3 separate regions of the Homo sapiens genome follow, and all the other regions are linked to region 2. Evidence: fine-mapped expression QTL. A gene starts in region 2. Each other region holds a variant in brackets. All regions are shown on one strand. Distances are from middle to middle. Region 1 overlaps MSC-AS1 (MSC antisense RNA 1). Region 2 holds the start of MSC-AS1 (MSC antisense RNA 1). Region 3 overlaps TRPA1 (transient receptor potential cation channel subfamily A member 1).

The links. PIP is the estimated chance that this variant, and not a neighbour inherited with it, causes the effect.
Region 1: its variant is the best candidate, but not a certain one, in a credible set for the expression of MSC-AS1 in whole blood (TOPMed, PIP 0.79).
Region 3: its variant is the best candidate, but not a certain one, in a credible set for the expression of MSC-AS1 in whole blood (INTERVAL, PIP 0.58).

Annotation. Positions count from the first base shown.
Region 1 is chr8:72,006,852-72,018,128 of GRCh38, reverse strand. All of the region lies in intron 4 of MSC-AS1 (MSC antisense RNA 1), which reads right to left. Among named protein-coding and RNA genes, the nearest start is that of TRPA1, 63 kb to the left of the region's middle. The variant G/C (reference allele first, on the strand shown) is at 4,976.
Region 2 is chr8:71,841,145-71,849,077 of GRCh38, reverse strand. It overlaps MSC-AS1 (MSC antisense RNA 1), which reads right to left and starts at 5,955. Exons shown (of 5, transcript NR_033652.1): 1 at 5,374-5,955; 2 at 4,656-4,849. MSC (musculin) reads left to right here and starts at 4,666. Exons shown (of 2, transcript NM_005098.4): 1 at 4,666-5,433; 2 at 6,331-7,518. The coding sequence starts at 4,900. The coding sequence ends at 6,417. RefSeq lists silencers at 3,159-3,208, 5,048-5,317 and an enhancer at 7,013-7,873.
Region 3 is chr8:72,052,297-72,057,296 of GRCh38, reverse strand. It overlaps TRPA1 (transient receptor potential cation channel subfamily A member 1), which reads left to right. Exons shown (of 27, transcript NM_007332.3): 10 at 280-380; 11 at 1,442-1,611; 12 at 1,697-1,861; 13 at 3,430-3,544; 14 at 4,532-4,698. MSC-AS1 (MSC antisense RNA 1) reads right to left here. Exons shown (of 5, transcript NR_033652.1): 5 at 985-4,758. Among named protein-coding and RNA genes, the nearest start is that of TRPA1, 21 kb to the left of the region's middle. The variant T/C (reference allele first, on the strand shown) is at 2,980.

The DNA of each region.
Region 1 (11,277 bases), 170 kb before region 2:
GTATCCCCCCACAGAAAAGGGAGGAACACTATACTTTTATGTGAATCAGAAATACTTAATAGCTTAAATAAGACATAATCCGCTCTCCAGAACCAAGTCTGAAAAAAATAAGTATTGAGGGAGAAAACTCTCAGAAGAGACAGTTATCAGTGGTAATTTAGGTTGTTTTAAAAATTCATGGAGAAGAGGATGAAGAAGACGGAGATTATCACTCATGGGCAGCATGTCTGTGCTTGTGTCAGTACCAGCAAAACCTGAAAGGAAAACTTCACCTGCACCTTCTAAACTTGCAACAATCTAATTTGAAGCAATATCAAGGCTCAGGAATCTATTAGAATGACAACCAGCTTCTACAGCCCCACAGGAACAGTTACTCCCAAACTCAGATTTCTCAACAAACATTACTGCAGGCATATTCCAGAGGCAAAGCAGGGATCCTCAGTTAAGGTCTTTCACAAAAGGGAAAAATATGAGGAAAAGTCAAATGGCTCAACAAAGGCAGTTTGTTTTTCTGTCTACAAGTCAACTCAGTAATGGCAAACCCCCTGTAAATCAGTGGAGATCCATATGCCTTGCAGATGCAGATCATTAATTCTGAAGGAACCAAAACTGTCTAAGGCCAGGGGAAGTGGCTCATGTCTATGATCCCAACACTTTGGGAGACCACGGTGGGAGGATTGCTTGAGTCCTGGGGTTCGAGACCAGTCTGGGCAATACAGTGAGACCCCATATCTACAAAAATTTTAAAAATAGCCTGTCATGGTGGCAGGCACCTGTAGTCCCAGCTACTCAACAGGCTGAAATAGGAGGATCACTTGAACTCAGCGGGGTCAAGGCTTCAGTGAGCCGTTATTGCACCACTGCACTCCAGCCTGGACAACAGAGCAAGTCCCTGTCTCAAAAATAAAAAAGAAAAAGAAAAAAAACTGTCTAAAGAATTCATAATCGAAATAATCCAGAAGTTGAGGTTCAAGACTGCAGGTATCTGTACTTTCAGGATACCACAGGCAGACACAACATCTTTCATAATCCGATAAACCTCCAAGCATCAAGTTTTCTGTGATGTTGTATGGTGTCCACAGTCCTTGAGATACAGGTTAGGTAGTGCAAATAACTAAAACCAGTAAGCCAGACTGCAGTCTTCAGCAAGGGACTTAAAGTCTCTTCTACTGCAGCAGTCTCTTCTACCCCAGCAGTTGATCAGCAAGCATCTTCATGACCCAGATGGTTGCCTTTCAAATTCTGAGTGTGGTAAAAGAAACCAGAAAACTCTTGGAGAGCTGTAATACTGAATTGTAAACATGTGTGCATTTATCACCATCCTGTATCACTTTGAAAACTTTCCCAATTATAAATATGCTAAAATCACCCAAATTTAAATAAGATGGAGGATTTATTAAATCAAATAGTCTTTTTACTTGTCGCAGGGCAAATGCTGAAAGTGGGACTCACCCCAGGAGGCCACGTGGGTTTTTGGCTTTCTGCAGGAAAAAATTCAAGAGCAAGCCAATAGAGTAAAGTGAAAGCAAGTTTATTAAAAAGTAAAGGAATAAAAGAGTGGTTACTCTATAGGCAGTGCAGCCCTAAGGGCTGCTGATTGGCTATTTTTATGGTTATTTCTTGATCATATGATAAATAAGGGGTGGATTATTCATGAGTTTCCTGAGAAAGGAGCAGGGGATTCCCAGAACTGAGGGCTCCTCCCACTGAAAGACCATATAGGTTAACTTCCAGATGTTACCATGGCATTTGTAAACTGTTGTGACACCAGTGGGCTCTTCCTTTAGTATGCTAATGTATTATAATTAGCATATAATGAGCAGTGAGGATGACCAGAAGTCACTTTTGTTGCCATCTTGGTTTTGGCAGATTTTGGCTGGCTTCTTTATTGCATCCTGTTTTACCAGCAAGGTCTTTGTGATTCGTATCTTGTGAAACAAGTCCTGCTGAACTCCTGTCTCATTCCCAAGTATAAAACCAAGTTGTGCCCCTAAAACCTCTATAGCATCCCAGTCTAGTGGTCAGCTCTGCCATTCCTTCTCAGTTGATAAGATAATGAAATGGCCCTTCACTCATCCAAATTACTGTAAACTTAACACCCAGTGTGCAGGATCTGACTGTACCTTTTAACATCCTTTGTTTCTATGCTGCCACATGAGTCCTTGAAATGCAGAAGACACAAGCCCATAAAGGACACTGTCAGTAAATAACCAGCCAGAGGATCAGAGATTTTGAAAGTTTCCATCAATTAGTCAATGACAACGCACAGAGCTTTGTCAAACCTTTGAAATATGGAACATGTTAATTTCACAATATGAAGTAAATTGCTTATGGGACATGCTTTTTTTTGCATGCTTTTAAAGTGGTTTCTATATTTTTTAACTGTAAAGAAAAGTCAACAAGAGATAAAGCTAAGTTCTACTAAAACATTTTGAGCTATGTTTTATATTGCCATTTTAAGTCTTAGCACTTAGAATGAGAATCATCAAAATGTGGTGACTCTTTGTTAACAAAGATAATACCACGAGGGCTTCACTGATGTTCTTTGGGAGTGGAGATTCATCAAGTGGAGTATCTCGAAAAAGCTGGATTGCTGCTTTGAGTTTTCCCCAAGAAAATTCAATTATCATATGCCAGTTTGAAAACAGAATAAAGCCCCAAAGTGCCAAGTGGCTTAAAGTAGTCATTGCATTCTATTTTTTGTTAAGTTTTTCTTTAATTGGAAAAGTATTAGGGTCAATAGAGCCAAAAGGTGGGGTCGGCCTTTCAAGTTTGGCACAGTTTTGCTGCTTGGGTACAGTGTTTTTTAAAATTCAGGTTCTTAACTTCTTGGAAAAGATGAATGGGAAAGAAATCAGAATGGGGGTATTTTGATTAAATTATTTAGAATGGCAATTACAAAAATAAGTACGTGTTTTAAATGTTTTCATTTATTGTTATGATTTGCATTTAAATAATTATTTTTGGAAATAATTTTCAAGAAAAAATATATGTATATATACATAAAGTATCAGAAAATAGTAATTAGCTGCAAAATTTAAGCTTACAGGGATGAGTAAATATATTTTTACAGTCTGAAAAGCAACTATTTACAAGTGAATAGTTTATAGCAACTATTTACAAGTGAGTGTACTGAGAGTTATTACTAAAGATAACTTGAAATGTAAAATCTGGCTTTAAAAGTATATTTTAAATGACAGTATAATGTTACACAAATCAGATGGGTAAATAGCAAACTAGGATTATACACTTGAGATATGCTAATATACAGAGTTTCATCTGTTATTAACATTTTTATTAAGACAAGAAGTATTAGATACCTTCTAAACAACGAATGTATCACTGATTTAAAAAAATAACCACTTAGTCACTGAGCAGCTATCATAACCTTCAAAGGAGAAGATTTAAGGCAACACAAACAAAAATATGCTAGCTTAACCTTGCATGTAAATCTTCTGAGAGTCTGCTCTAGACAGAGGTTTCAATTCTGCACCGCCTAATGCGTGTGACCCACAGAATTCCCAGCTGGATTTAGCTTGTCTGCACTGCACTTTTAAAACAAGCTAGAAAAAGGCAAACTCCCTGTTCTTCTGGTGCCATATGTGTATATTTTGGCTATTTCAGGGTATAGGGTAATGGAAAAAAAGCACCCTTTGTTTCATTTTTCATCATAATGAGGCTCCCCATTTGACATGTATGACAATTCTACCAGATAAGACAAGACCAATACAACACAGGGCAGAAACATGAAGAAAAGAATATTTTCTAAGGTCTTCTTGGGCACTACATAGTTGTTTTATGATATTTTAAAATTTATTTTTAACTGATCATGCCCAAAGCCAAACTTTGTTACAAGAGACATCTATAAATATTTACTAATCAACGAATGTTACAACAGACAAGGAACGCAATAGCATGAATGTATTACAACACAGGGTACATGGGCAGATGTTTATGGGAAAATGACTAACCCGTTCATAAATTATCACTGTTTACATTTCAAAGCCCAAGCCAGCTGCTTTGTAATGACAGATTATATCTTCAGTATTGATCACTGACAGCTATAAAAAGTCAGGCTGTTTGGCTTTCACAGGTACGAGTGGTGAACAGAAGATGAAATACCTTATCTCATTCATTTTTCTTAGCAAGGACTCAATTCTATTCAAATTAAAGATACTGCTTCATAACATACTTGTAACTAAAAAATATAGGGTGGATAATTTCTTTTTTTAATTGTTCAGAAATCAAGAATATAATTTAAACAAAATAAGTATGTATTAGTACATGGGAAAAAAGATAAAAAGAAACAAAACAGGCAATATAAGAAAAGCTTAAAAAATTAAGTAAAAGAAAACATCAAGACCTACAAAAATGCAAAAACATGAACAAGACTACACAAGTAAAATAAAATCTATGAGTTCTGACAACCAATCTAAACTTCAGTAAAAAACACAATACTTCCTTTCTGGGTTAAAAAAATGTAATCGCTAGAGAATAATCTAAACTAGTATTATAGAAAGATGAACAAATAAATATACAAATATAAAGAGCAGGAGTGACAAAATGAACTTAACCCAAAGAATGCAAGGGAAAAAATATAAAATTAGGCAAAATTATTGCTTTACACGGACAAAGATTTGACCTACAAGGAAGTCATGAGTTATTAACCTTTTTGCTTTCAATAAGTTACCAAAATATGTCGAGTTATAATTAGTAGAAGTGAATCATTGATGAATATATTGTTGGAGAGTCTTATAACACCTCCATTAGCCTAATCCCAGCTCCACACTTAGGAACTGTGTGACCCGCAAAGGTTATTAGAACACTGTTGCCAAGGAACTAGGAGAGAAGAGTCTGCTAGGACAAGGCACCAGCAGAGAACAGCCACTGCTGGAGAAACACAGGTACCCAAGCTAAGTTTCCAGGTCAAAGCAGGGACCAGATGAAGTCAGGAAGATCAGTCTGTAAAAGATAC[G/C]AGCATTTCTGAAGCCTTTAAATAGCTGAATACATTGTATAGCGTTACTTCCTCACCTGACCCAGGTTAACCTCTTTTTATGTCAGTCCCCATTTTTCCCTTCCAATTTCTAACATTCATATTCCATTTTGAATAATTAAAAAGTTTTTTAAAAAATTAGTAACTCATGGAACTTGAGTTTGTGGATAGAGAAGGAAAACAATAACTAAGTCTGAACCAATAGTGGGCCTTGCCCTCTTCTCCTTGAACCTAGGTTTTAATGACAAAAATGAAGCTATTTTGGTCCACAAAGCAATCAAGGGTCCCTTTAGCCATCTCTGTGTCCCTTCACTAATTAATTCACCACCTAGACTTCAGCTGAAAAGACCTGCCCTACTCCAGCTATTTAGTTTAGCTCTATGTTCCTTCATTACTTGCTCATCATATGGGGGTTTGTCCCTTATTTCCTCACCCCTCTGAACAACATGCTTCTTTAACAGCTGGTCCTGAGGGTCAATAGGGTGTTTTAGTGTTCTCATTTGGTCTTTCAATAAGATGCCATTTCTTCTTGACTCTTGTATGTTCTAGTGCCTTGCTATTCAAGGTGTGGCCTGTGGGCCAGCAGCATGGGCACCCTCTGAGAGCCTGTTAGACATACAAGATCTCTGGCCAGTCATGGTGGTTCACGCCTGTAATCCCAGAGCTTTGGGAGGCCGAAGCAGGTGGATTGCCTTGAGTTGAGGAGTTCAAGATCAGACTGGGCAACAAAGCAAGACCCCGTCTCCACAAAAAAATTAAAAAATTAGCTAGGTGTGGTGGCATGCACCTGTAGTCCCAGCTACCTGGGAGGTTGAGGTGGGATGATCATCTGATCCACGGAGTTTGAGGATCCAGTGAGCTGTGATCATGCCACTGAACCTCAGCCTGGATGACAGAGTGAGACCTTGTTTCAAATAAAAGAAGAAAAAAGAAGATGAAATGTAGGATCTCAGGTCCCTGCCCTAGGCACTCTTCCCTCCTAAATCAGAATTTGCATTTTAGTAAGTTCCCTTGGCAATTCATATGCAAGTTAAGGTCTGAAAAGTACTACCTAATGAAGTTTCACACTAACACTGCTGGATGCTTCATTTAAAATCAATCAAGTGGCCGGCGCAGTGGCTCACGCCTGTAATCCCAGCACTTTGGGAGGCTGAGGCGGGCGGATCACAAGATCAGGAGATCGAGACCATCCTGGCTAACACGGTGAAACCTCATCTCTACTAAAAATACAAAAAATTAGCCGGGCGTGGTAGCAGGCAACTGTAGTCCCAGCTACTCAGGAGGCCGAGGCAGGAGAATGGCGTCAACCCGGGAGGCGGAGCTTGCAGTGAGCTGAGATCAGACCACTGCACTCCAGCCTGGGCAACAGAGCAAGATTCTGTCTAAAAAAAAAAAAAAAAAATCAATCAAGCAAACTATAGTCAAAAATAGAAAATGCTGCATACTTTAACTATCTCCACTACCTCCTGTGTTCACAATGCACATTGGCTTAATAAGGCTCTGAGAAAACTTGTAGTAAGTAAACCAATTTTTTTTTTTTTTACTTCACTATTTTCCAAACTTATATATCCACGGGTCCCCTGGCACATAATAACTATTAACATCCTTCAGGATTTATGATCTATGGAACACATTTTGAGAAACACTGGTGTAATGGACATATTTGATGAAAGGAAGCAAATGACTAATTAGACACTTCTTTGCATTGCAGTTTCTTCATCGATGCAATAGAGGTAAAATAGGACCTATCCATCTCAAAGCGTAGCTTTGAGAAGAAAAGGAAGTGGATGTCAAAACCTTTTGAAAATGCAAGTGTTTGGGATACTTTCATTCATTTATTTTTTCACTTAACAAATACTTATGAGTGCTTACTCTGTCCCAGGCCTGTGCCATGTGTGGGGGCTACAGCAGTGAGAAAAGCTCCTGCTTTCACGGAGCCAAAAATCAATCCGAGTGAATTAAGGATTCAGATTTATAGACCACAAATGTAGGCAGTGATTCCCAAGAGGTAAAACATTGCTAAGAGTCCCATCAGTGTTATTTTAATTCAAAATGATTTATTTAACTAGAAGAAGGCCTTCTCAAAACCATAAGGGAGCAGGAGTACCTACTGAGTAATAATAATGTTAAGATTTATACAGAACTTACGGATGTCATCTAACCAACGGTGTGCTGGCAAGCTAGCCCCTGTTGTATAGTATTTGCAAATATCTGTAGTGTAAATATTCTCACCATGGCCAATTAATTTCAAACTACCAATATGATGTCACTGGATGTGAGGATGGGAAGATTGGCAGAATCAGAAAAAAGGTGTACTATTGGTCATTGTGAGCCAGTACAAACCAACTGCAGTACATCATGGCATGGACCATTCTAAACATTTCACATAAAATAAATCATAACTACCCTATAAGAGAGTAACTAGCATCTTCCCTATTTTATAGATGAGGAAATTGAAGCTCAAAAAGATTACATAACTCTTCCAAACCAAGCAACTAGGAAAGGAGGTGATATGGTTTGGCTGTGTCCCCACCCACATCTCATCTTGAATCCCCACATGTTGTGGGTGGAAGGGACCCAGTGGGAGATAGTTGAATCATGGGGGCAGTTTTCCACATACTGTTCTCATGGTAGTGAATAAGTCTCACAAGATCTGATGGTTTCATAAGGGGAAATCCATTTTGCTTGGCTCTCATACTTTCTGTCTGCTGCCATCCACGTAAGATGTGACTTGCTCCTTCTTGCCTTCCACCATGATTGTGAGGCTTCCCCAGTGAAGTGGAACTGTAAGTCCAATTAAAACCCTTTATTTTGTAAATTACCCAGTCTTGGGTATGGCTTCATCAACAGCATGAAAACAGACTAATACAGGAGGCTAGCATTTGAACTTAGAGACATATGACTCTAGAGACCTATCCTCAAACACTATGGCCCAGTACTTACTAAGCTTGCCACTGGCAAGCTGTGAGGTAATCCCAAAGGTTAGTGTCAGCCAAATCCACCTCATTCACTTATTCATTCAATAAGCAACCAAGAATACTCAAGGATAGTGAATATGCTTTGGATGAGATGCTTACAATTGCTTCACTGGGGTGAAAATATTCTATTTGGACAGTAAAATAAACTCAGTATTTGGATTTGGCTCACACACTTCTCTGTGACAGAGCTTCATTTTCATAGGACAGCCACAACAAAATTCCCTTATTTTGGCATTCCAGAGAAACTGACATTTGGCCACACTGCTAAAATTGATAGACTGAGAAATTATGACAGAAGTTCAGATGGGTACATGGATATGTGTATGTAGTTTCTGCTGTCTGAATGGTGTGAAAATTGCCCTAGATTAAGCTAAGGTTATTCTAGTCAGCCTTTAATTGGCTAAGATTGTATATTGGTTTGCTAAGGCTAGAAAATAAATAACAGACATTTATTGTCTCAGAGTTCTAGAGGCTTGCCAAGATGTCAGCAGGCTTGATTCCTTCTCAGAGCTGTGAGAGAGAATCTGCTCCAAACCTCGTTCCTAGCTTCTTGTGATTTGCTGGCGATCTTTGCCGTTTCTTTGTTTATAGAGGAATCACCTGGATCCATGCCTTCATCTACACAGCATTCTGTGTGTGTGTGTTTGTGTGTGTGTGTGTGTGTCCCTGTGCGTGTGTCTGCCTTTGTACCCCAATTTCCCCTTTTTATAAGAAGAGCAGTCATATTGGATTAGAGACCACTTTAATGACCTCATCTTAACTGTTAATAATTACATCTGCAATGACCCTATTTCCAAGTAAAGTCACATTCTGAAGTACCTTGGGTTAATGCTTCAACCTAAGAATTTTGGGGGAAGGAGGGGAATGCAATAAAAGATCTGTCTCCAAAAGCAAAACTCAAAATAACTATGCTTTAAAAAATAATACAAACAAAAAGTTTATTTATCTCTATAAACAAAGTCTAAAAGTGAGTCCTACTAGACTAATAGGCTAATACGGCAACTCTGTTCCACATAATCCTATCACCCTACTATCCAGGCAAGTAGTCCTTGTCCTCAGGATTCAAAATGCAAGCATCCATGTTCCAGGCTGTGGATTAAAGGAAGGGACAGGAAAAAGAGGTACACCAGCTGTCTCTTAAAGAAGGCTCCTGCAATCTACACATCATCATTTACTTATATGCCATTACCTGAATTTAATAAAGTGGCCACATTTTTCTTTAAGAGACACTGGGAAATATCATTCTAATTCCATGCAGGTGTGTGCCCAGATAAACATTCTGTTATTTAGAGAAATGGGCCAATAGATGTTGGCAGTCAACCAACAATCTCTACCACAGAGAATAAGAAAAAATACAAAATTACACTACCTGTGTATAGAGGGCCAGCTCTAAAGGGGGAGGCCATTTCTGATGTCAGTGACCTCACCTAACAGGGAATGTTTGAGTCTTAGAGCAGAAGCATTTCCTGGGAGAGTGGGCTTTAGCTAAAAGACAGAGAGGACTTGGCCCAATCTGGTCTCTGAAAGGCACAACTGTCCACAATGGCTTGCAAGAAGTGAACTGTTAAATAGAAAGAGCAGTCTTAAAGAAGTAGAGTAGAAACTAGTTAATGACATATTTTAGGTAAGGTCTTATTTTTCTTTCTGGAAATCCATGGGGAATGGGATCACATTTGAAACTTCATAGAGAGCAAGCACGTTTTTAAAATAAGCCAAATATTCGGTTTTATGGCACTCTGTATGTTTATTTCTCTCTTTCCTCACTAATTTCCTATAGCTTCTTTTTGAATCTGTTATTCCTTTTCAGCTGTGTGATAGTTATCGAGTCAAGGGATTTTGCTCATGCTTAGTTAAAAATATTTAAATGATGAAACAGAGCCCATCAAGGCCAGCATCATAGGGATAGTGGTAATTATTATACTCTAATTGCAGATTTGATACTGCATGGTCCATTACCCCCTTCTTTCCTCCTAGTAGAACCTCCTGTAGAGTGAACTTTGGAAGTTTGAAGTGTGTGTGGGTGTTTTATTAAAGAGGGCCACTTTACCTGACTGTGAGCTAATGGCTTCCAAAGTCTACTGCACACACATTCATTCCCAGAGCTCTCTCTCCATTTCACCTCTGACCCTCTGCTCAATTCAGTAGCTGCTGGTCCATGGCTACCACCACATTTAATCAAAAGGGGCTAGTTAGTAGCTTTCTCCCTGCCCTGATAACCTCAGAATTAACTCTTAAAAGAAAAAGAAAGAAAGATACATGGAAACTTGCACAATTTCCAAAAATGTAACAATCAGCCCTTGCGCTGGTATAGAAAGGGCCAGCATGCCAATGATAGCTGAACTAATAGATAACATTACAAAAAGATTTACTCCAGATTCTAGGAGTTGCATCAAAATCCAGTCTGAAGTGGAACTTTCTGCTCAGAAACTGATGCATCTAGTCCTATGAAATTCTGCTGTCTGAAGGAAAAGACCATGGACAGAGTGCTGGCACCAGTGATGGCAGTCCAGGAAAGATGAGCAAAGTATGAGTTGAGAGCCTGAACCACAGGTTGTGCCTGGCTGGGCAGGAAACACATGAGTTTTCAGAATACAGACATCACATCATAAGACTAGATGTGTAAGAGGCAGAGTTTGTTTGCCTGACTTTAATCTGACTACATAGAGCTGGACAAGGAATTTACAAAAACAAAATAATATGAAAAAATCCATCCATCAGTTTAACACTAGATGGCACTGAATGATAATAATTTGGAAATAGGCCTTCAGTGTCATTAATAATGGCATTATGGATGTACTTGGGCTGCCCTGAGTCTTGATAGATAAAAAATATCACCAAGTCTACCCTTGCCTCTTTTCACTGTTTTAGCTATAATCCAAACAAAATACAAAAGTTATTATACTCAATTTACCTAGTTTTCATGCTGTTACTTCTTTGTGTTGTGATCTTTCATGTGTCTGTATATCTATTTGTAGGCTCTTTGAACACAGAGACAGCAGTTAATCCTTTTATTTGTTATTTTATCTACTTATTTTGTTGTTGGTATCCTCAATTCCTAGTCACATGAAGGGCTCTTAATACTGAAACATTTTTTCTTTAAAAAACTTTTTTTAAATTTTAATAGCTTTTGAGGTACAAGTGGTTTTTGGTTCCATGAATAATTATAGTAGTGAATTCTGAGATTTTAGCACACGCTTCACCCGACTAGTGTACATTGTACCCAATATGTAGATTTTATTCCACTACCCCTTCTTATCCTCCCCCTTCCGAGTCTCTAAAGTTCATTATACCACTCTGCACGTCTTT
Region 2 (7,933 bases):
GGGTAAAAAATCTTGCTGCAATCCTTAGATAAATAAACCAGCAGCAGAGGCCTGTTTGTGTTGTGGATGACAAAGGACTCCACATGTAGGCTTTGACTATTTCCATGGATGCCCAACCTGATGGCTGGTAGAGCCCGGGTGAAGGGAGTTTTCTTCCTTTCCTGGTCTGAAGAGTGGTGGCATCCTGCACAACACCAGGACAGAGGCTGCCCTGAGCCTGGAGCAGAGCCCAAGGCTTTGTGCAGACAAGGGACAGGCCTTGGGTTATCCAGACCTAACCCTGGGTCTTACACGTGACCTGTCCCCACCTGACTGGCTCCCCATGTGACTAGCATGCCACGTGGCCAACACACACTGGGACTAGCATTCCATGTGACTAACACACCACTGAGGAGGAGCGTTCATTTTCCCAGCACGTGTGTGTGTCTGGTGGGGTGTGTTATAGACAGGAGGTTGAATACACGTGGTAAGACGCAGTCTGGATAATACAGAGAAGCTTATTTCCACAAGAATGTGCCCTCCCAGTGGGTGAGAGTGGGTCTCACCAACACCTTGCCACAACCAACAGTAGATACTCAGTCCATAGGGGTATAGTTAATCCATGAGATTAATCCCTGAGTTGTCCAATAGAAATATAATGGGACCGGTATATTTAATTCTACATTTTTAGTAACCATATGATAATAATTTTAAATGGTGAAATTAATTTTTGTAATATATTTCATTTAACCTAATAGATCCAAAATGTCCTCACAGATTGACATAAATTTATATTTTAAAATATTAATGAGAGCTTTTATATTCTTTTATTCATAGTAAGTTTTCAATACTGGTTATGCATTTTACACTATAGTACCTGAATAGCCACATTTCAAGTGCTCAATAGCCTAATGTGGCTAATGGCTTCCATATTGGCCAGTGCTGATCTAGATTATTCATTTTCCTAGATCAAAAGTATAGGCAATTGGCCGAAGGTATGGCAATTCCTCCAGGCAACAGGAGGCTGTGGGTTGGTCCCACTGCTGTTTCTTAAGTACCTACTCACTACATAGTTTTGGCATGGCCTTCACAGAGGACAGAGGAAGCCTTTGCTCTTCCTGAGTCCTAAGTCCACATGACCTACCCAGTTCTAGAGTTTCTCACCCATTACTTAATATGCTGTTGGAGGAAGGAAGTGGCAACAAATGGCCTTTTTTCTATGATGTGTAATTATCATCCCATCTCATGGCTCCCTTTTTAAAAAACAAACCAAGCCTGCATTGTTAAATGTTTCAATCTGTTAGGCACTGATCTGTGTTCCACCTGGGCATGCTCCTTTGACCTACACCACACCACCAGCAGGATTTCTGGCTTAATCCTTTATGCCAGTAGGGAAAGTAAGGCTTGGAAAAGCACTGCAATTTTAGGGTGAGAGAATTTGGGGGACGAAAAGAAAATTTCTAACGACGTCCCATCCATTTTTCCCTCAGTGAAGTCCCTCATGGGACCTGTGAAAAATGTCATGTGATGAGACCATGTACTTCAGACCCTAGCAGCCTGTAGTCAAAGCAAATGAAAGACCCTGGTACTATCTGAAACCCAGAATAGGCCCTGGAGTACAAAACTTGGGTCAGGTCATTGCCCTAACTTTTACTAGCTGTGTGATATTGGGCAAGGCAATTCATAATACTAACTAGCATTTACTGATCTTCTCCCATGTACCAGGCTCTGACCTAGCCAACTGCTCATATACTTTCTCTTCCGCTCAGAGAGATAATCCATTTTATAGATTAGAAAACTAGGGCTCAAAAAATGCAAATTCCAGAAGTCATATATCCAGCAAGCACGGAAGCCAGGATGAAGAAATATTAAAGGTAATATTAAAAGAATTATTAAATATTTTGTTTTATAATGCAACTTAAGCCCTACTCACCCCATTGAATATTTTTTAAATGTCACTAAAGAATTTCAAGACCATTGATGTACACACAAACAGTCTATACCTGTTTCACATCTAAGAGTTTGTAAAGCATAAGCAAATAGGAATTGATTTCAGTGTGTTTATAAGATAAAAATAAAGGCTGTATTATTCATTTCAGTATGTCACTTGTCAAAACCATGAAAAACACTGGGCTTTCAAAAGAGAGAGTTATACTTACACTGTTCAGCTCGAGAAGCTGTTGTAATCATCCAAGGAGAAGAAAAAGTAATAGCACTTTGAAAGTGGAAGGAGGTGACCAAATGCCAGATATTACAAACATGTTAAAGCAAACTGCAGTTATATGCTTATAAAAAATGCATATAAGGTACATTTCCTAACCTTCATTACCAGTCTGCAACTTGAAAACAGAGTTACAAGTGAAAATATAACTTAATTTCACAAAAATGAAAGAAATGGAGGTTAAATGAAAGATGATGAAACAAACAAAATAAAATAGCTGACTTTCTTGAAAGCGAACAGAGGGAGGGTGAGGAGATGGAGTAGAAGAGAAAGGGAGGGAAGTAGGGAGGGAGGGGAAGACAGAGAAAGAAGACAGGGAGGGAAAGGCGAGTGCTGTGAAAAATAAGCCCGAACTGGTGGGGTCAGACCATTTCTTCAAGAAATAAAGAAACTGGCCATGACCTCCTCAGCGTTGAGGCTGGGTATAGTTTTTGTGACTGTTTAGAGAAATCTAGCGCTCTCCTCACCATTAATCTTTTCTAAAGAAAGACTTTGTTCTGCACCTGTATAAACAATTCAGATTTTAAAAACCTATTCGCCTGCCCCTAATGTGTGAGACTATATATTTATACTGATAGCTTCAAGTCATCAATAGTCGTTGCAGAGAGCTAGCCTGGCTCTCCTCGGTCCATCTCTTTGCCCCTCTTTGTCGCTCTCCTCTCCTTCACCTGGCAAGGCGATCCTAGAGTCAAGTTCAAGTTCAAACGCTCCAGGAAAGATTTCTACACTCTGTCAAATATTCCCTGCATTTCCCTACCCTAGAGAGAGCTGAGGGCAAATGATCTTTTTATTCACATTGTCCCAGAACCAGCCCACCCCCTGCCCCCAACCAAAAGACAACTTGTACAGGGAGAAAACCTTTGCAAATGTGGGTGAGCCGGAGGGGTTATGTGAAACATTCCCCCGGCCCCAAAACGCCCCTGCTAAGGGTAGCGTGGCCTGGGAGACTAAGGTGGAATGATGCCTGAGTGATGAAGTCAGCCTCTGCCAGCCACCTGTTGCAGCACTTCAGCCATCGAGCTGGACGCATTTGTTCTGCTGTACGAACTGGCGGGAGCCAGGCTGGCCCAGCTATCTCTGCCAGCTCTGTCCTGGACTGACTCCACATAGGTCCCCTTGCACCTTGCTCAGCTTGGGAGCCTGTGGACTTTCAGGAAAAGAACAAGTGAACACCTAAGCCTGTGTGACGACTCAGTTTCATCATTGTAAAATGGGGTAACCATATGCCAAACTCATACGGGTTTTATTACTCAGTGAGCTGCTCACAAGCCGCGAGTACAGTGACGGGCACACAGCGGGCACTCAGTCTCTGACCACTGGGGCCCGTATCCACAGACGTACTTATCCCCTGACCAGGAACTGCGATGACCTTCGAGTTAGGAAATAATGAGACTGCAAAATTGTTGTGTTTTCTTGTGTGGAAGAGCAGGATGTTTTAGTCTTGTTTGGAATGGAACATGATCATTCAGGGTGCTCCTTTGTCGTTTTTACTTTGAATGGACGATTGTGCTAACTTAGCATTCTGCTTCCAGGAGCTCGCTCTTCAATACACAATCTATTAAATACAATAGCAAGGATTCCCTACATTATAATGCAAAGCTTTAGGGCCGGATCCTCCAACACACGCATTGTGGTATTAAAACAAAATCACATCACGCATGGAACTCTCAAGATAGTGGAAAATACCAGCTACAACATCCAGTGATGTGTGACCCGGAGGCACGGAGCTGACTAGAATACCGACGGGCCAGAATTTCAAAACGCGGATTTTGAATCTTTTTTTCTACTTAGCCTAATAAGTTTGGGTCTTTTACTTAACGTCTATCTAGGCGGCTCAGCTTCAAGTTCTGCAAATTGGAGATAATATCATTAAGTTACAGATGTTATTTGAAAAGGCAACGAACCATTGTAACCATTTTTGTAAACCATGAAGGTATATTATAAGAAAAGGAGGAGGAAAATGAGAGGTAACTTGTGCATTGTTGGATGTTGTTTGCCTGTTCTGCTTTTTCTCTTGTCCAGCAAGGCTTGGGTAGACAATCATACATCATGAATGGTTAACTTGAAAACTGAGTTCTACTGGAAAGACTGGCAGGCAAGCAGAGGTCGGAATCCCGTCGTTTCTAAGTGTCTGGTAATCTTTGCCACTGCTAAGATTACCTGGGGGTAGAAGCACCGTCGGTAGGAACAAGATGTGCCCCTTCACTCCCCGAAAGCTCACTTATCCTGCGCAGACATGTTGAAGGGCCGTCGGGCTTCAGAGCCCAAATCTCGGCTCTGCAGAGACGTCCCCTTCCCCCGCCTCCACCAACCGCTCTTCGGCATGCAGAAAAGCGGTCCCCACCCCTTCCACGCCCCTGCCCCACCTCTTGGCCCCCTTTACAACCCCCTCTTCTTTGCCCGGGGTGGTTTGTTCCAAGGAGTACAGATAGCCTTTTCAAAAGGCGCAGCTTACCGCGGTGCGCGCGGATTCTGGACTTGGGCGCCAACTCGTAGTCCACGCTCCCCGGGGTCAGCAGAGGGGCGCTCACGCTCTCGCCACCCACCTCGCTTTCTCACCCCGCGCTTCCCGGCCTGGGTTTTTAGTCTTCCTTGGAGCGCTCTCTGGCCTCCGCCTCCGCCAGGGAGCGGAAGGCGGAGACAGCGAGACTGGCCAGGGGGGAGGAAAGAGGACGCGTGTGGGCAAGGGGGACAACGGGATGTCCACGGGCTCGGTGAGTGATCCGGAGGAGATGGAGCTTCGGGGGCTGCAGCGGGAGTACCCGGTCCCCGCCTCCAAGAGGCCGCCCCTCCGCGGCGTAGAGCGCAGCTACGCCTCGCCCAGTGACAACTCGTCGGCAGAGGAGGAGGACCCCGACGGCGAGGAGGAGCGCTGCGCTCTGGGCACAGCCGGCAGCGCGGAAGGCTGCAAGAGGAAGCGGCCCCGTGTGGCTGGGGGCGGCGGCGCAGGTGGTAGCGCGGGCGGTGGTGGCAAGAAGCCCCTCCCGGCCAAGGGCTCAGCCGCAGAGTGCAAGCAGTCGCAGCGGAACGCGGCCAACGCCCGTGAGCGTGCCCGGATGCGCGTGCTGAGCAAAGCCTTCTCCAGGCTCAAGACCAGCCTGCCCTGGGTGCCCCCCGACACTAAGCTCTCCAAGCTGGACACGCTCCGGCTGGCTTCCAGTTACATCGCTCACCTGCGGCAGCTGTTGCAGGAGGACCGCTATGAGAACGGCTACGTGCACCCAGTGAACCTGGTAGGGGCGCGGCGCGCAAGGATTCGGGAGAGCAGCCAGGAGATACCCAGGGCGCTCCTGGGCGCCGGGCAGGGTCAGCCCGTTGGGAAGAATTCGAAAGGGGTGGAGGTTCTGGGACTGGGAACGAGAAGGCCAGTTTAGTTTCTCCCAAATCAAGGGAGTGGCCAGCCATTTCCCTGAAGAAGAATCAACCCTCCGTGTCTGTTTGCATCGTTCTGAACATTGTACCCCAGTGACAGCCATTGACTAATATCCTACTTCCAGGGTAAATCTTGGTTCCATCTCCATCTGCCACCAGGTTGCAGACTGACGGCAAATCTCCCTTGCCCAACTTAATCCAGCTGAGTCGGGCAGGTTTGAATCGGCAAGCCCTTTCTTAAAGGAGGGAAGGCCGAGCTCTATAAAAGAGCATTTGCATTTTTAGAAAAATTGCTTGTGGAAGATAGTAACGTTTCCCCAGATGGGATTTATCTGGAAAGTCCCTCTCTGATCTGCCAGCTCTCCCGGCTTGGGAAAAATCCTGTCCAAGCCCAGTTCCTACTTGGAGCTTGGAGTGGATGACTGTGTGTGTGTGTGTGTGTGTGTGTGTGTGTGCGTGTGTGTGTGTGTGTGTTGGGGAAGGGAACTAAACGACAGAACCTCAAAGTCAGATGAGTTTCACCAAATTATCCTGCGGGCAAAGTCCAGGAAGAAGCGTGAACGGATATGGCAAGTCTCGGATTATCAACCTCCAGTAAAATGAAAATCTTAGTTCAGAGAGAGGACATGCAAATTCCCAGAATGCTGATAAAATCTTAGCTACTCCAAGTCAGGAATATCTGGGGTTCGCGTAGGAGAGCTGTTTCGGTTTGAGACAATCGTTTCTCTCTAATATCTCACGTTCTTTTTGATTTACAGACATGGCCATTCGTGGTCTCGGGAAGACCGGACTCTGACACCAAAGAAGTTTCCGCAGCCAACAGACTATGTGGAACCACCGCTTAAATCGGACTGGAACTCACTTGATGGGATTATTCGTTAAATGCGAGTGTTTGGGGGCCACGGAGAGAAGGGAGAGCTCGTGAGATGGGAAGAAGTTTCCGCTGGATTCTCCTTGACCCTTCCCCTTTCCCTGGAACTGTGATCGTGACAGGTGGCGGGTGTGGCTGTCACTGCACAGCGCCCACGGCTACAGCTGCGCCGGATCTGGGCGACCACGTTTTGCCTCTCCAAAAAGAGCTTCCTTTCGTGACGAGACGCGGACGCAGGTCCACCCTCGGGCCCTAGCTCTGTAGACTAACTCTCGGCTGCTGCCCCAGCCCGCGCCAGACAGCCCACGGATCCGTTCTCAGCGGAGCCAGATTCATCGCACACGTGCGGGACGGTTCCACACAGCCCCGGCCTTTCGCGGTGACACAATGGTTAGGGAACGGTTAGAACGCGCTCTACATCCGCTTTAAAGACAGAGGTCTAGACGTGAGATCCGCGTCGGGACAGGGTTTTAAGTGACAAAGAAGGGCGAGTGGCTTCTCTGGGCCGGGTTCGTACTCCAGCACAGCGCCCTTCTAACGGGCGGGAGGAAGGCCGCTGCTCGCAGGGCTAGGTGGAGACACACTTCCCAGATCACCGCAGGCGGGTTTTACCCGGAGAGCTCTGGGCCGTTCGGCCTCCCTGCCGGGTGGCTTCTTCAATCCCGTCTCCTTCCCAAGCTCCCGGCTTTTTCTAATCAGGCAGGCGTCTGTCAACCCTCTCCACTTCTGGGCTGAAGCCTCCCCAAGCCCCGCTGCGCCAACCTGTGTGGGGTCTTCTTCGGGCCTCCCTCTCCGCCCCGCTCCTGCTCCTACCTGCAGCACCCCCAGCTCCGACTCCAGACTCTCTGCATCAGGTCTCCCCACTCCACGCTCCGGGCGCCCCAACTCCAACACCACGTCCTGCCGCGCAGGTTCTTCCCCGCGCGGAGGAGCGCGCAGGGTGGGCGGCTTACCATAGCAAGTGATCCTGCGATAGGGAACGCGCCCTTGCCCCGAGGCTGCACTACCACAGGAAATAACATATGTAAATAAATTTATTTTTTTATGAATAATAAAACGCGCTGTAAAAACCGTGTGCCCCTTGGAGGTGTCAGGATGTGGTCTTTGTTGCCCTTTACTAAGAGGGTTTGGCTGTAGAAGTTAACTTTTAAGGGCTGATCTCCTCTGGTCAGGGCGGTGGGTCATTGCGGGAGGAATGGTGGCGATCACTTTTGGATCACTCCATTTCCAAACGTCATTCTTTATTAATCTCTATGATTCTGCTGCTTCTCCGCGCCGGGCTTCCTGGAAGGCCATAACTGGAGGCCTAATAAAAGTCCTGAGTCTTGAGGCCCCTGCTGTCCTGACAGACATACACTCCTCAGGCTAACATAGGTGCACGTCTCTCATACACACACACACACACACACACAACACACACAGCAGCTACTCCAGCTAAAAGCACACTCCAATCCTTACCATTGCAAGTAGTTCAAAAAAAAACCCTAAGG
Region 3 (5,000 bases), 210 kb before region 2:
TATACTTACATTTTATGCTTTAAAAGGTAAGGCTTCATGTATTTATGTAATGCATCACATATTTTCTACCCCACTTACACATACAGACACACACACACACAGAGAGTAAGTTAAACCTGATTTTAAATATGTTTAGTTTTCTCATCTAAACACAATTTCCTGTAAACTAAAGGTCGACAATATTTTTAGTCAAATTTTTTTTTGCTAAGTTGAAAATCCACGTAAACATTGCTTTAAATAAATGAATAGAATTTATATTTACATAGTGTTTTTTTTTAGGTGCCCAAGTAGACATAAAAGATAATTTTGGACGTAATTTTCTGCATTTAACTGTACAGCAACCTTATGGATTAAAAAATCTGCGACCTGAATTTATGCAGGTAATGTATATCTGTGGATTGCCATTAACTGAGTTGGGTTCAACAGAAAATAAACTAATTTTGTTTATTATAATTTTTGTTATTATATAAACTGATTCTGGAATTTTAAAAATGTTTTAAAATAAAGATGACATATTTGACTATTTAGTTACAACATGGTGATGGTGGTGGTGGTGATGATTATGACAATGATAATTAATTGTAGTGAGACTGAGTTTTTTAACTTACAAAGAAACTTAATATGCAGTCATCTATGATAAAGATAACATCCTTAATTAGTTTGATTTTCTTCATTCTTTGACCATTATGATTTGCATATCAGTGGAAAAGCCAAATATAAGAATGAATTATCAATACTCCACCATCAATTAAGAAAAATTACTCAGCATACTTGACTTTCTGAGGAGAGGTTGAAAGCATTATTTTTATATTTATATTCACCAGCTAATACTTACTGAGTGACTAGCACATGTATGTGAAATACATCATATTTTTATCATCAATAGATTTCAATATTGCCAGTATTTAATAATCAAAATATATATGTGTTTGAATATTTAAAAAATAACAAAATATTAATTGATAGGCTTAAGCTTCTCATTTATCATTCATTTTTTATTTACTATACATATAAAACATAAAATAAACCTAATGTTTACATCCCATCCATTTTACCTAACAGAACATATTAACATGAAGCTGTTGGGTGTTATTTGGGGGTGGGAGGAAATAAGAGGAGGGGCAGAGGGAAGGGCCATGATCAAATATATTTGAAAAATGCTGAGTTAAAAATGTTAAGTACATTTTCCTATTGGCATGATCTCTCAGATCCTTTAATACAGTAATGTACACTAATATGGTAATGTACACTAAATGAAGACAGAGCATTCAACTTCATTCATATTTATATTACTCTCAAATCCTTTAGGTTATTTACAATTTTGGCCCCAAGGAATACATATTGACCCTTGTTGGAAAATATTTTCCTACAGAATAGTTTGAAAACCATCATATTAGCATAATAGCAGAGTTATTTGTATGATATTAATTTTTTCCTATAGATGCAACAGATCAAAGAGCTGGTAATGGATGAAGACAACGATGGGTGTACTCCTCTACATTATGCATGTAGACAGGGGGGCCCTGGTTCTGTAAATAACCTACTTGGCTTTAATGTGTCCATTCATTCCAAAAGCAAAGATAAGAAATCACCTCTGCATTTTGCAGCCAGGTAAGGGTCAGTCTAGCAATGTATGAACATGTCTTCTTTCTGTTTAATATTTGCCTTGAAAATATGAAACCTAATTTTTTCCAAGTTATGGGCGTATCAATACCTGTCAGAGGCTCCTACAAGACATAAGTGATACGAGGCTTCTGAATGAAGGTGACCTTCATGGAATGACTCCTCTCCATCTGGCAGCAAAGAATGGACATGATAAAGTAGTTCAGCTTCTTCTGAAAAAAGGTGCATTGTTTCTCAGGTGAGGATATATGATTGGAGTGTTTATATAATTTCTTTAATTAGCCATTTTCAGGCTATCTTTTCATTATATTTTTAATTATGAGGTCTAACTTTATATCTCACTAAGTACTTTTATCCAATTTATTTTTTCATCAAAACATATGTAACTTCTAAAAATACTGAAAGGGAAGTCAGTATTATTTCCAACTGACAAAGACTTTGAAGTTTATAGCGTTGAAGAACCTTGTTCAAGAATATTCTGTTCACAGAATAATTGGCTTTGTGCAGTCTTTCTCAGAACCTTTCTTTGAAACATAGTTTCTCATATTTTACCTCATCATGCTGCCATATTCCTATATAGATACAAAACTGTGGTTGTGTATGTGTGTATGCACGTACACACACACACAAAACATACAAGTTCAAATACTCTACTTTTCATTCAATCTGATGAATGGTAGGCATAAAAAGTTCCCTTTAAGTGACAACAGGAGATGGTAAAAATTTCTGAATTTTATTATACTTAAATGAACTCAAGTACAAGAAACAAAGTTAAAATATGTAAGTATAATAAAATATGTGGCATAATTAAATGATATTGTGATAAGAAAGAAAAAACCTGGAAATGTTTTACAGAGGTTTTTCATTTGATATCTTACCATAGCAGTAGCAAAGAGCTTATTAGGCTAATGTTCAAAAACACATTTCCTTACCATAATATTGATGCCAGCAAATTGGTGCTACAGCTACATGAATGAATGTTTTGCTCAGTTTTTTCTGGTTTACAAAGAAACACCAAGCAACTGACCTGCAAAGGGGACCGAAGTAGACCCAGGCCAGACAGTTGTTGCTTAATTACATCATAACTGAAATAGCAACATGGCTCTTGCACCCTAAAACATCTGCTCACTAGCACTGAAATTAAATAGTGTCAAGAATTTTTTTCTGTCTAATTTGAAAAAAGATAGCTAATATGACAAGGCTTTGTTGTATTTACATCTTGAATTTCTGTGGAAAAGGATAAACATTTTTCAAAGCAATTGAGTAAGCATTTTTCAGAGCACAAGAGGGAAGCTTTTTAGATTTAAACTCTTAGAATAATAACTGACACTAAGCTAAGCATCTTATAGCCATGTA[T/C]CATATTACTAGTAGTATTACCAATAACTATTGACCACAAAGACTAACATTACTTCATAAAAAAATTTTGATACAGTGTTCATTGAAAGAATAAAACAAGATTTAAATTGATGTGTATCAGTTCATTATAGCTTTAAAAAAATTAGGTATGACACAGACATGCTAAGCGTACTTCTCCTACCCCAAAGTGTTTGGTAATGTGTTTATATACTTTCATATTTTAAACCACTAAGTAAAAAACGTGTATGAATCACATTAGAAATAGGTCATTTAAGATCATTGAGCTTGGAATTAGCTCATTTATTATAAATGTTTTATAAATATTTAGTTGCCAGATCTCAATAATGCTTTTTGTTGTCATCAGATTTACCTAGAATAAGCCAAGTGGCATCCCATCCCGCATTTCATCTGTTAAGTGTATGCACACATCTTTTCTTAACTCTTTACCAGTGACCACAATGGCTGGACAGCTTTGCATCATGCGTCCATGGGCGGGTACACTCAGACCATGAAGGTCATTCTTGATACTAATTTGAAGTGCACAGATCGCCTGGATGAAGACGGGGTATGTACTGCGGTCCTCATGCTTACCCAAAATCTCAATATAGCAGAAACTTCCAACATTGCCAGAAAACTCTCCTAGACACCTTTTACCTTCCTTGCTCTATTCCCAGCCTTTTGTTGGGTGTTTAGCAAGTGGATTCTTGAGGTGAAGTATGAATCAAAAGGCAACAGAATTGGGAGAATACCAAGGGGTGGGTGAATGTTGGGGAAACCTCCAGTCTCACAGAGCAGCGAGGTCCACAGGCCAATGAAATTTGATGGTAAAGCGTTTACTCCCTGGTAGGTCCAGAGAAATGAAGGCAGGGGTGAGTTTTCATTAAGATAAGTGTTATTTTGAAGTGTATTGATTTGAAATGCTGCCCTTTATTGTGCTATTATGTCTTTCCTTCCTTTGGGGAGAGTAACTTTTGAAATGTACGTTTGTTCATAAAATGATGGGGATAGAAGACTGTTGTTGCCTTTTTCAAAAAAAAAAAGTCTTTAAGTGGAGAAACTAAAAATGGGCAAACTTATAACAGTCTCTGATTTTAAAAAACATTTACAAGCTTGTGAAGCCCCAAATCTGTAAGCCACTGTTCTACAAATGATCAATCTCAGGAGGATTTTCTTCTGTGTTCAACCCAACATCTTTACCCTGAAAGCTTGTCCTTTGTCCTTGTGGAATCATCCCATTGCAAAAGCAACACAAAACAAATGCCTTGGAATTCATTCTCTCTCTCTCTCTCTCTCTCTCTCTCTCTCTCTCTTTCTCTATCTCTCACACACACACACACACACACACACACACAGATCCACTTCCCACACATGCACACACACCATGCTAGAACTATAAACTCATTATTTTGAAGCTTGATTCTGAACACCAGTTTTAAGTGCTATGTATTTTGGTATTAAATAGTGTCGCTAATGTCTTTTAAGCAGTTAAGCAGTGAAATAAGACAGATTAGACACTGTCACCACGTTTTCTGTGTCTGTTTTTCTTCAAAAGAACACTGCACTTCACTTTGCTGCAAGGGAAGGCCACGCCAAAGCCGTTGCGCTTCTTCTGAGCCACAATGCTGACATAGTCCTGAACAAGCAGCAGGCCTCCTTTTTGCACCTTGCACTTCACAATAAGAGGAAGGAGGTTGTTCTTACGATCATCAGGAGCAAAAGGTACACTGTCTTCCTGTCCACTGTCATTTAGTGTTCTCTGGTGTTGGGATGATTTGAAGTCTGAGACAAAATAAGAGAAAAGAAATGATTTTCAGCCATTAATCAAAATTTAAAATATCAGTTGTTTACATCAATTTTTTAAAGGTTTTTTATTTTTTATTTTTATTTATTTATTTTTAGAAAAGGTCTAGCTCTGTCGCACAGGCTGGAGTGCAGTGGTGTGATCTCTGTTCACTGCAACCTCCGCCTCCCGGGCTTCAGCAATTCTCATGCCTCAGCCTCCTGAGTAGCTGGGACTATAG